2 separate regions of the Homo sapiens genome follow, and region 2 is linked to region 1. Evidence: fine-mapped expression QTL. A gene starts in region 1. The other region holds a variant in brackets. All regions are shown on one strand. Distances are between the middles of the regions. Region 1 holds the start of LINC00304 (long intergenic non-protein coding RNA 304). Region 2 has its middle 55 kb from the start of CBFA2T3.

Region 1 (5,370 bases):
CATGGGGTGGGAATATGGGCAAGCGGCTGATGCATGAAAGGCACCACGTGCTGCTCGCATTGCTGCTGTCTTAATGGGCTTTGCTGTGCGGCAGAGGAGGGTGGGCAGGTGGTAATGAAGGAGACTGATGACTCCGTGGCTAGAGTAACTGAATGGTTGTGAGTGTCTGGTCAGACTGGCAATGGGGGGCGTGCCCTGTGAGCCTATGATGAGGGGCTGCCTGGGTGGGCACCGGCTGGTGCTTTAGAGAGGACTGAGGGTGTGGCTAGGGCCACCACGTGTGAGTCCGTCTCCCTCCTCTGTGACACATGGGTGTGCAGGTGCGCCCACGTGTATGTATATGTGACACGCTGCACGCATGCTCGCTGATGCGAACTCACACACGCGCCCACGTGTCCCAGGCAGACTGAAGCAGGGCCCACAGGGGAATGAAGCTGGGATGGGCGCCACCAGAGAGGTCGCATCGCACAGGGGCGGATGCAGAACGGGGGCAGCGGCTGGCCCAGGACGGTCAGGGCCTGGCTGGCAGAGCCTGGGGTCCTGTGCCCACCCTGTGCTCCTAAGGCCCTGGGCCAGCCTGGGAGCACCATGGATTCTGAAGATGTGCTGACTGGCCTGCAGGCACCAAGCTCCACCCATTCCAGCTCCGACAGGGCCCTGGGGAGCCCACTGGTCAGGGACTGTGGGCAAGAAGAAGACCCCTCTGCTGAGCCTGCAGCCTGTGTTTGGAGCTGGGCTAGGAACCTTCTGGAACGTGCCTTCCACCGGACAGAACCTTCCAGAACGTGCCTTCCACGGGACGGAAACTTCCGGAACATGCCTTCCACAGCATGGAAACTTCTGGAACGTGGCTTCCATGGGATGGAACCTTCCGGAACGTGCCTTCCATGGGACAGAACCTTCTGGAATGTGCCTTCCACGGGACCCTCTCATGCCCTTGCACAACTGCACCATTTTCCTGTGTCACCGAGGAGGACGTGGGCTCCGAGCCGCTGAGTGACCTGTTGGGGGCAGGGCTGGCGCTGGCCGTCCCAGCTTAAGGACTTGCCACAGCTTAAGACCCATGGAAGGAAGGTACGGGGAGGTGCTGAAGGGATGAAGGGCAGAGCTGGGCCTTGGGGCAAGGCCAGTGGCAGCGCCGGGCTCCTGGACACAGCAGATGGCCCCAGGCAACTGGCCCTGCCCTGCCCTGGAGACCCCTCCGCCTCCGAGTCCTCCACGTCCTTCCACCTGGATGCCGCCACAGCCCACCTGGGCCTGGCTTCACGCCCCCAGCTCTTGCCGGGTATGACGGGTGGGCATGGAGGGTGACTCAGCCCAGCCCAGGAAGGACCAGCCGCGTGGCAGGAAGACGGAGGGAGTGCCCGGAGCCAGCAGGGCGGCCACCGAAACCCCGCACTGACGCAGGGACCGAGGCACCCGGGGCCAGTTTCCGGGAGAGCCCCACGATGGCCCCTCCATTCCTCTTAGGCTTCCCGCCCAGGGCGGGCTGGTGCGGGGACCGGGAACTGGTGTGACCCAAGACACATCACCCGCGTGTCCTCTCACATCCCATTCCACCAACACCAAGGTTCCTTCTGGAGGCTCCTGGGAGAATCCATTTTCCGCCTCTTCCGGCTTCGGGAGGCCTCTCCTTGGCTGGGGGCCCCTCACGAAGCCAGTAGTGGCAGGCCAGTCCCCCTCACGCCCGCCTCCGCCATGGCCTCCCTCTTCCACTCAGCAGGACGGAGGTACCCTGTGCCCTCGCGGGTCACCCAGGGCAGCCTCCCTGTTGAGGGAGCTGATGTGCCGTCCACAGTCGCAGGTCCCCGCTGCTGTGTGAACTCACAGGTCCCAGGGTGAGGAAGCGGGGTCTTCGGGGCAAGGAAGCGGGGGGTCTTTGGGTGAGGAAGCGGGGGGTCTTCGGGTGAGGAAGCGGGGGGTCTTCGGGTGAGGAAGCGGGGGGTCTTCGGGTGAGGAAGCGGGGGGTCTTCGGGGCCGTCATTCTGCCACCCACAGATGGGAGCCTCCTCATGAGGCGTCCGGCCTCAGTGGCAGCTGGAGAGCCACAGGGGCTGTGGGGTGCCCAGCAGGGCGGGCTCAGTACTGCCCGCAGGACCACCCTGCAGTTAGGGCGACTCAGCGGCTCACAGCCTTCTCAGTTCAGTTCCTATCAGCTGACCGAGGCGGCCCCACCCCACCTGCCCTTGCCCTAGGAGCTGGGGATCTCCATCCAGCAAGACTGCGAACCAGGCCACCTCTGAGACCGGCTGCCACAGACCACATGCTGGCCCTGGCTGCCCGCTAAGGCCAGGGGACACCCTCCTTGAGACTCCCAGGGTGATGCTCAGCTCCTGAGGACCGAGCGGCCTCTGCATGGCGCTCCGTCCCCATCCCTCCGCCTCTCCAGATCTGCCTGGCTCAACGCACAATCATCCTGGGCCCTCCCAGCCTTACCTGGCCAAACCGTGGCCTTGCCCACCTGCCTGGACCATTCCCTCCTGATTGGGTGCGATCTGCAGACAGCAGTGTAAGTACTGCATGGAGGAGCCGCGGCCCGACGCCCACAGCACGCGCCACGTCCGTAAGCTGCACCCAGTCCAGCCTGGTGGCTCCCCGTGTGAGCCTGAGCTTGCCGGCCAGAGGGGACGACCTTGGGCTTTGGCCCCAAGCTCGTGATTCACACCCTCGCCCTCAACTCGCCTGCCTCAGCGGCTCATGTGCAAAGCAGGCTGAGCGCGCTGCCTTCAGTGGGTGTGAGAACCCTGGGAAGGCACCTCGAGGGGTGTCAGAACCCGGCAGGTGCCTCCAGTGTGGGGTGAGCGTGCGCTGGGTATGTGGGGACCTGCGGCAGCGCCCTCCGCCCACCCTCAGACGGGCTGGTGCTCAGGGGGTGCCTGTTGGGCCCAGGACCCACCCCTTCCGTGCACCCGCCTGTGGGGACCTACGGGCTTCCTGCTCAGAGAGAGGCAGATGAGCCCCACGTTGCTACCGCGGTCGTCCATCCCGTGCTCTTGTCTGTGCCGGCAGCTGGCAGGAGATGCTGCGGCCGTCGTGCGTGATGGATCATGAGGTGCAGTCACGGATGTTTATCCTCCAGTGACCTCGTCTCTCTTGTGGCTGCTGAGGAGATGCACATGGGGCGTGATCATTCGTATTGATCAATTTGCTGCTCATTTGCCACGTCGTCAATGTTTTCACACAGGGTCCACTTTACTCTTCCAGGCAGGAAAGCGGCTGCACCGACCTGCGGCCAGGAAGAAGGGGACAGAATCGACTCCCAGGGGGTCTGGGGGGAGCAGGAGTCTGCTCTGGCTCAGGAAGGCTCTAGAAGGGCCACCAAGAGCAGCCGCAACAGTGCACAAGGACCTTGTGATGAGAGCTACCTGAGCGAGTCCCAACCTGATCAGACGCACCATGTAGGGGGAGCCGGGGCCCCATTGCAGCTGCCTCGGGGAAGCAGTGACCACAGGCCCGGCTGAACCTGATGGTGACGGGGAAGGGAGGGACTGGTGTGCACACAGGTGTCCATGTGCCTGTATGTATGCAGGTGTGTGTGTGACACACACATACATGTGATATACGCAGGCGTGTGAGATACACATACATGTGACATATGCAGGCGTGTGAGATACACATACATGTGATATATGCAGGCGTGTGTGAGACACATACCTGTGGTGTATGCAGCTGTGAGACACATACATGTGATATATGCAGGTGTGTGAGACACACACATGATAGATGCAGGCGTGTGAGGCATATATGTGTATGCAGGTGTGTGAGACACATACAAGTGATATATGCAGATGTGTGTGACATACATGTGGTGTATGCAGGCATGTGTGACACATATACATGTGATATATGCAGGCGTGTGTGAGACATACATACCTGTGGTGTATGCAGGCGTGTGAGATACACATACATGTGACATATGCAGGCGTGAGACATACATACCTGTGGTGTATGCAGGCGTGTGAGATACACATACATGTGACATATGCAGGCGTGTGAGATACACATACATGTGACATATGCAGGCGTGAGACATACATACCTGTGGTGTATGCAGGTGTGAGACACATACATGTGACTTATGCAGGCGTGTGAGACACATACATGTGACATATGCAGGCGTGTGAGACACACATACATGTGACATATGCAGGCGTGACATACATACCTGTGGTGTATGCAGGTGTGTGATACACATACATGTGACATATGCAGGCGTGTGACATATACGTGTGACATGCAGGCGTGTGAGATACACATACATGTGACATATGCAGGCGTGAGACATGCATACCTGTGGTGTATGCAGGCGTGTGAGACACATACATGTGACATGCAGGCATGTGAGATACACATACATGTGACATATGCAGGCGTGAGACATACATCCCTGTGGTGTATGCAGGCGTGTGAGATACACATACATGTGACACATGTAGGCGTGTGAGACACATGTGACATGCAGGCGTGTGACTTACATACCTGTGGTGTATGCAGGCGTGTGAGACACACATGCATGTGACTTATGCAGGCGTGTGAGACACACATACATGTGACATATGCAGGCGTGAGACATACATACCTGTGGTGTATGCAGGCGTGTGAGATACACATACATGTGACATATGCAGGCATGTGAGATACACATACATGTGACATGCAGGCGTGTGAGATACATACATGTGACATGCAGGCGTGAGACATACATACCTGTGGTGTATGCAGGCGTGAGACACACATGCATGTGACTTATGCAGGCGTGAGACACATACATGTGACATATGCAGGCGTGTGACATACATACCTGTGGTGTATGCAGGCGTGTGAGATACACATACATGTGACGTATGCAGGCATGTGACATACATACCTGTGGTCCACACCTGTCTGCACACGCCTCCTGTTACTGATGGTTAACTCAGTGGCTGGCACACTCACCACCTTCTCACTGTGGCTGGCAACAAGCTGCTGTTCTGCACCAGGACCTCCTCTCAGGCTCCCAGCAAAGGAGGCCGGCAGCTTTGACACGAGGGTCCGGGAGCCGTGGCTCCTCCAGGTTAGTGGTGCACACAGCGCTTGCCACACCGCCCACTGCCTCACTCCGTGCTGTGCCTGGTGCTGCGTGGGTCCTGAGGCTCCTGCTCCTGACCCTGGTGCCGCTGGGACAGAGTCCAGGTGGGAGGGCAGTGTGTGGTGTGTGTGTGGCCAGTCCCCAGGGACAGGACGCCCGAGGGAACAAAGCCCCCACCCCTTGGCCAGGGCTAGAAGGGCCCCGAGAGAGCAGCAGCCGCAGTTCACAGAGTAGGGAAACTGAGGCAGAGCAGGCTCAGGTCTTGTGTGTTGGGCCTGGACACCTGGCAGGAAGGCAGCCCC
Region 2 (5,382 bases), 130 kb after region 1:
CACCACGAGGCCGTGGGCACGGCCAGTTTGGGATGTGCTGGTGCCTCTGCTACGTGGCATCCTGCTGGGTCCCTGACAGGAGGCCTAGCCTGGCCTGTCTGCCTGACCTTGCCAGGGAAGGTGCCCCAAGTGTGCTAGGAAAGAATGCCAGGCACCAACTCCATAGCCAGCCTCTCCTCCCACTGGTACCGCGGCCTGCCCGGCCTCCACCACCACTGAAGAGGGCAGGCGCGGGACACCCAGGGGTCAGGGAAGCTCCCAGAACGATGCCCTCCATCGGACCTCAGAGAGCACGGGCCTGACTGTGTCCATGCATGCGCCAGAGTGTGCTCTGTGTGTGTGCGCGTGTGGGTGAACCCACGTGTGAGTGTGCATGTGAGTGTGTGCAGGTGAACCCACACGTGAGTGTGCGTGTGAATACATACGAGTGAACCCACGTGTGGGAGTGTGTGAGTGCGGGTGAACCCACGCGTGTGTGTGTGAGTGCGTGTGGGTGAACCCAAGCATGAGTGTGAGTGTAGGTGAACCCACACATGTGTGTGTGAATGCGTGCGGGTGAACCCACGCATGTGAGTGCAGGTGAATCCACACGTGAGTGTGTGTGTGAACTTGTGGGGGGGAACCCATGCTTGAGTGTGTGTGTGCACGTGCAGCTCTGGCCACCCACTAACATTTGCTCAGCTCAGCCCTGCAGTGCGGGTGGACGCCCAGGGAGGCCATGCACTTGCCTGCAGTCCGAGTGCTGGGCTCTGGCCCCAGCCCTGCCCGTGTGCTGTGTGAGCCAGGGCATGGCACCTTCTGCCCCTCCATGAACCCAAGTCTCTTCCCTCACCAGTGAGAGCAAATCCCGGCACCACGACCGGAGCACCAGCACAGATGCAGGGTGAATGGCAGCACACACGCTCCCTGGGTGCCCTCGGGCCTTGGTCTCAGCTTTGGAACAGCAAATTGGCTGTGGGGAGGGGGTCTGCTTCCCCTTCTACCTCCTGAGTCCCCCTAGAGCCCACCTCCTCTGCTTCATCCCATGACCCCCTCTCTGGAAGAGCTCCCAGCTGCCCACTGCCTCCCACACCCCCTCTCCTCTGGCCTGTCCAGCCACGGTGGCTGGACAGAAACAACACACTGGATCACCCTGCCCTGGCCTGGAACCTCCTGCTGCTCCTCACTGCCATCCCATCGAGTTCACCCTCCCATGCCAGCCCTTGCCCCAAATCCTCAGGGCACCACGTGCACCCTCAAAACTGTCCTCGCAGGGCCCCTGGGGCCCTTCCACATGCTCTCCCGGTGGCATGGACGTGCCCCTTCCTGGCCCTCTCCCGATGACCTCACAGCTCAGCCTCCCTGCCTTCCTCCAGGTCTTCCCTGCCTGTACCAGGCTTTCCCCGGCAAGCTCACACCACGCAGGGTCCTGAGTGGATGCCACTCGTTTATTCCTCTATTTCCCCCACTCTACCATCTCAGAGCTTTTTGAGGGCAAAGCAATTTCTCTGTATCCCCAGAGCCTAACTCATGGCTGCTGTTTGATACTTTAAATAAATAAATAAATAAATAGGCCGGGCGCAGTGACTCACGCTTGTACTCCCAACACTTTGGGAGGCCGAGGTGGGTGGATCACCTGAGGTTGGGAGTTCGAGACCAGTCTGACCAACATGGAGAAACCCCATCTCTACTAAAAATACAAAATTAGCCCGGTATGGTGGCACATGCCTGCAATCCCAGCTACTCAGGAGGCTGAGGCAGGAGAATCGCTTGAACCTGGGATGTGCAGGTTGCGGTAAGCTGAGATCACACGACTGCACTCCAGGCTGGGCAAAAAGAGTGAAACTCCCTCTCAAAATTTTAAAAAATCATAAATAAATAAATGACATAATTGAAATACATTATGAAACTTTTCTGGATCCATTTCCTCATCTAGAAAATAAAGAGGTTGAATTTCTGACAGTCCAGACTCCCCTCCACGCCTTTAAATGCCGGCTCTGGCCCAACTGAAAGACCAGGAGTGGTTCGTGAGAGCAGTTCCCACTGCTTCAGCCCCAATTCAGATAAATCCACCTTTGTTGAAGCCACGTTGTGCCAGATGCCACAGAGAATTTTCAGAGGGCACACAAGCAGTGAAGACGCCTGTGAGGACGGGTGAGGCTCAGAGCGGAGATCAGGTGAGGACGGGTGAGGCTCAGAGCGGAGATCAGGTGAGGACGGGTGAGGCTCAGAGTGGAGATCAGGGGAGGACGGGTGAGGCTCAGAGTGCAGATCAGGGGAGGACGGGTGAGGCTCAGAGTGCAGATCAGGGACGCATTACTGAGATGTAGCGTGTGGATGGGGCCAGGAGGAACGAGGGGCTCTGATGGGACTGAGGGTGTGGTGGGAACGGCACTACAAGTGGGAAGGCAGGATGCTGCCAAGGCAGGGCATGGCGTCCACTCCCAGCCATGATAAAAATCACGGGTGTCCGTCAGGCTCATCCTCCTTCTATAAACAATTGTTTAACTGGATGAAATGTAAATGAACTGTTTTCAGGCACTGCACAACAGATATTTCCACGTGCACCCAAGCTTTCTGCTGGGAGGTACTTTCCAAACCACAGGACAAGGAAGTGGGGACTCAACCCAGCACAGATGTCTCAACAGGCAGAGAAGCAGAGCGGGGAGTATGGGGCTGCCGAGGTGTCCGCAACTTGCGGCGAACAGAAAGGAGGAAGCTGTGCAAAGAAAAGGAGCCCAGGAATCTGTACAGGAGTTCCCTTGAGCCGTATAGGAAGGACTTCACAAGGCCTGGCCAAGACAAAGCGTTTTGCATGGAGGAAAGAGTTTGGAGGTAAAACAGTGCTGGAAGACACTGTGTGACCCAAACAGCTTGAGTGGAAAG[A/G]CCTCGCTGACAACCCCAGTAAGGCAGGTCTCAGGAGGACTATCCTAGCCACAGGCTAAGGATTGCTTGAGAACCTGCCCTCGCAAAGTCTAAACTCAAGCTGACAGCCATCTCCTAGAACAAAACTTCCCATCTTTAAAGATGACAACATCATCCAAACTCTCAATATAGCCTCCATGATGTTCAGCATACAATAAAAATTATTATATATGCAAAGAAGCAGGCAAATTTAACCAGAAGAGAAGTTGATAGAACAGAGCCAGAGATGACACAGATGTTGGAATTCAAAGAGAAAGATTTAAAAGAAGAGAAAGACATGAGTGAGGAGATAGAGATTCTCAAAAGAATGGAAACTATGGAAGGGGAAATGATATTAAAAAATCTAGAACTAAATATTATAATATCTAAAATTTAAAATTCACTAGATGAGTCCAACAGAGGATTGGACTACAGAAGAAATGGTTAGCAAACTTGAAGATGGATACATAAAAACAATCCAAAGAGCCTAGGCATGGCAGGTCATGCCTATAATCCCGGCCCTGTGGGAGGCTAACACGGGTGATCACCTGAGGTCAGGAGTTCGAGACCAACCTGGCCAATAGGCTGAAACCCCATCTCTACTAAAAATACAAAAATTAGCCAGGCATCGTGGCACATACCTGTAATCCCAGCTTCCCAGGAGGCTCAGGCACGAGAATCGCCTCAACCAGGGAGGCAGAGGTTGCAATGAACTGAAATCGTGCCACTGCACTCCAGCCTGGGTGACAGAGTGAGACTCCCTCTCAAAACAAACAAAATCTTTGACTTCTAATCAGAAACAATGCAAGCCAGAGGACAATGGAACAGTATCTTTAGAGTGTTAGAACTGTGAGCTCAAAATCCTACACTCTGCAGGAAAAAAAAGTCCTTCAAAAATTAAGGTGAGATAAAGCATTCAGATAAACAAAATCTGAGAAAATGAATCACTAGAAGAACTGTACATAAATAAATGTGAAGGAAGCCCTTCAGGCTGAAGGGAAATGATGCCACATGGAATTTCAGATCCACACAAAGACGTGAAGAGCCCTGGAGGTGGCAAACATGAAGTAAATAGAAAGTCCCCTTTACCCACGTATTAATATAAAGTCTGCTTTACTCATATATTAATATAAAGTCTGCTTTACTCATGTATTAATATAAAGTCTGCTTTACTCATGAATTAATATAAAGTCCCCTTTACTCCTGTATTGATAAAGTCCCCTTTACTCATATATTAATATAAAGTCCCCTTTACTCCTGTATTAAGATAAAGTCCCCTTTACTCATATATTAATATAAAGTCTGTTTTACTCATATATTAATATAAAGTCTGCTTTACTCATGTATTAATATAAAGTCTGCTTTACTCATGAATTAATATAAAGTCCCCTTTACTCCTGTATTAAGTCCCCTTTACTCATATATTAATATAAAGTCCCCTTTACTCATATATTAATATAAAGTCCCCTTTACTCATATATTAATATAAAGTCTGCTTTACTCCTGTATTAATATAAAGTCCCCTTTACTCATATATTAATATAAAGTCCCCTTTACTCATGTATTAATATAAAGTCTGCTTTACTCCTGTATTAATATAAAGTCCCCTTTACTCATATATTAATATAAAGTCCCCTTTACTCATATATTAATATAAAGTCTGCTTTACTCCTGTATTAATATAAAGTCCCCTTTACTCATATATTAATATAAAGTCCCCTTTACTCATATATTAATATAAAGTCTGCTTTACTCCTGTATTAATATAAAGTCCCCTTTACTCATATATTAATATAAAGTCTGCTTTACTCATATATTAATATAAAGTCTGCTTTACTCATGTATTAATATAAAGTCCGCTTTACTCATGAATTAATATAAAGTCCCCTTTACTCCTGTATTAAGATAAAGTCCCCTTTACTCATATATTAATATAAAGTCCCCTTTACTCATATATTAATATAAAGTCCCCTTTACTCATATATTAATATAAAGTCCCCTTTACTCATATATTAATATAAAGTTCCCTTTACTCATATATTAATATAAAGTCTGCTTTACTCATGTATTAATATAAAGTCCCCTTTACTCATATATTAATATAAAGTCCCCTTTACTCATATATTAATATAAAGTCTGCTTTACTCCTGTATTAATATAAAGTCCCCTTTACTCATATATTAATATAAAGTCCCCTTTACTCATGTATTAATATAAAGTCTGCTTTACTCCTGTATTAAGTCCCCTTTACTCATATATTAATATAAAGTCCCCTTTACTCATATATTAATATAAAGTCTGCTTTACTCCTGTATTAATATAAAGTCCCCTTTACTCATATATTAATATAAAGTCCCCTTTACTCATATATTAATATAAAGTCTGCTTTACTCCTGTATTAATATAAAGTCCCCTTTACCCATATATTAATATAAAGTCCCCTTTACTCCTGTATTAATATAAAGTCCGCTTTACTCATATATTAATATAAAGTCCCCT

The links. PIP is the estimated chance that this variant, and not a neighbour inherited with it, causes the effect.
Region 2: its variant is fine-mapped to the expression of LINC00304 in whole blood (TOPMed, PIP above 0.99).

What each region holds. Positions count from the first base shown.
Region 1 is chr16:89,156,948-89,162,317 of GRCh38, reverse strand. LINC00304 (long intergenic non-protein coding RNA 304) reads right to left here and starts at 3,098. Exons shown (of 4, transcript NR_024347.2): 1 at 2,928-3,098; 2 at 2,437-2,610; 3 at 759-2,102. RefSeq lists enhancers at 2,150-2,649, 3,033-3,202.
Region 2 is chr16:89,029,408-89,034,789 of GRCh38, reverse strand. No RefSeq gene overlaps it. Among named protein-coding and RNA genes, the nearest start is that of CBFA2T3, 55 kb to the right of the region's middle. RefSeq lists enhancers at 1-351, 2,561-2,620, 2,631-2,690. The variant A/G (reference allele first, on the strand shown) is at 2,866.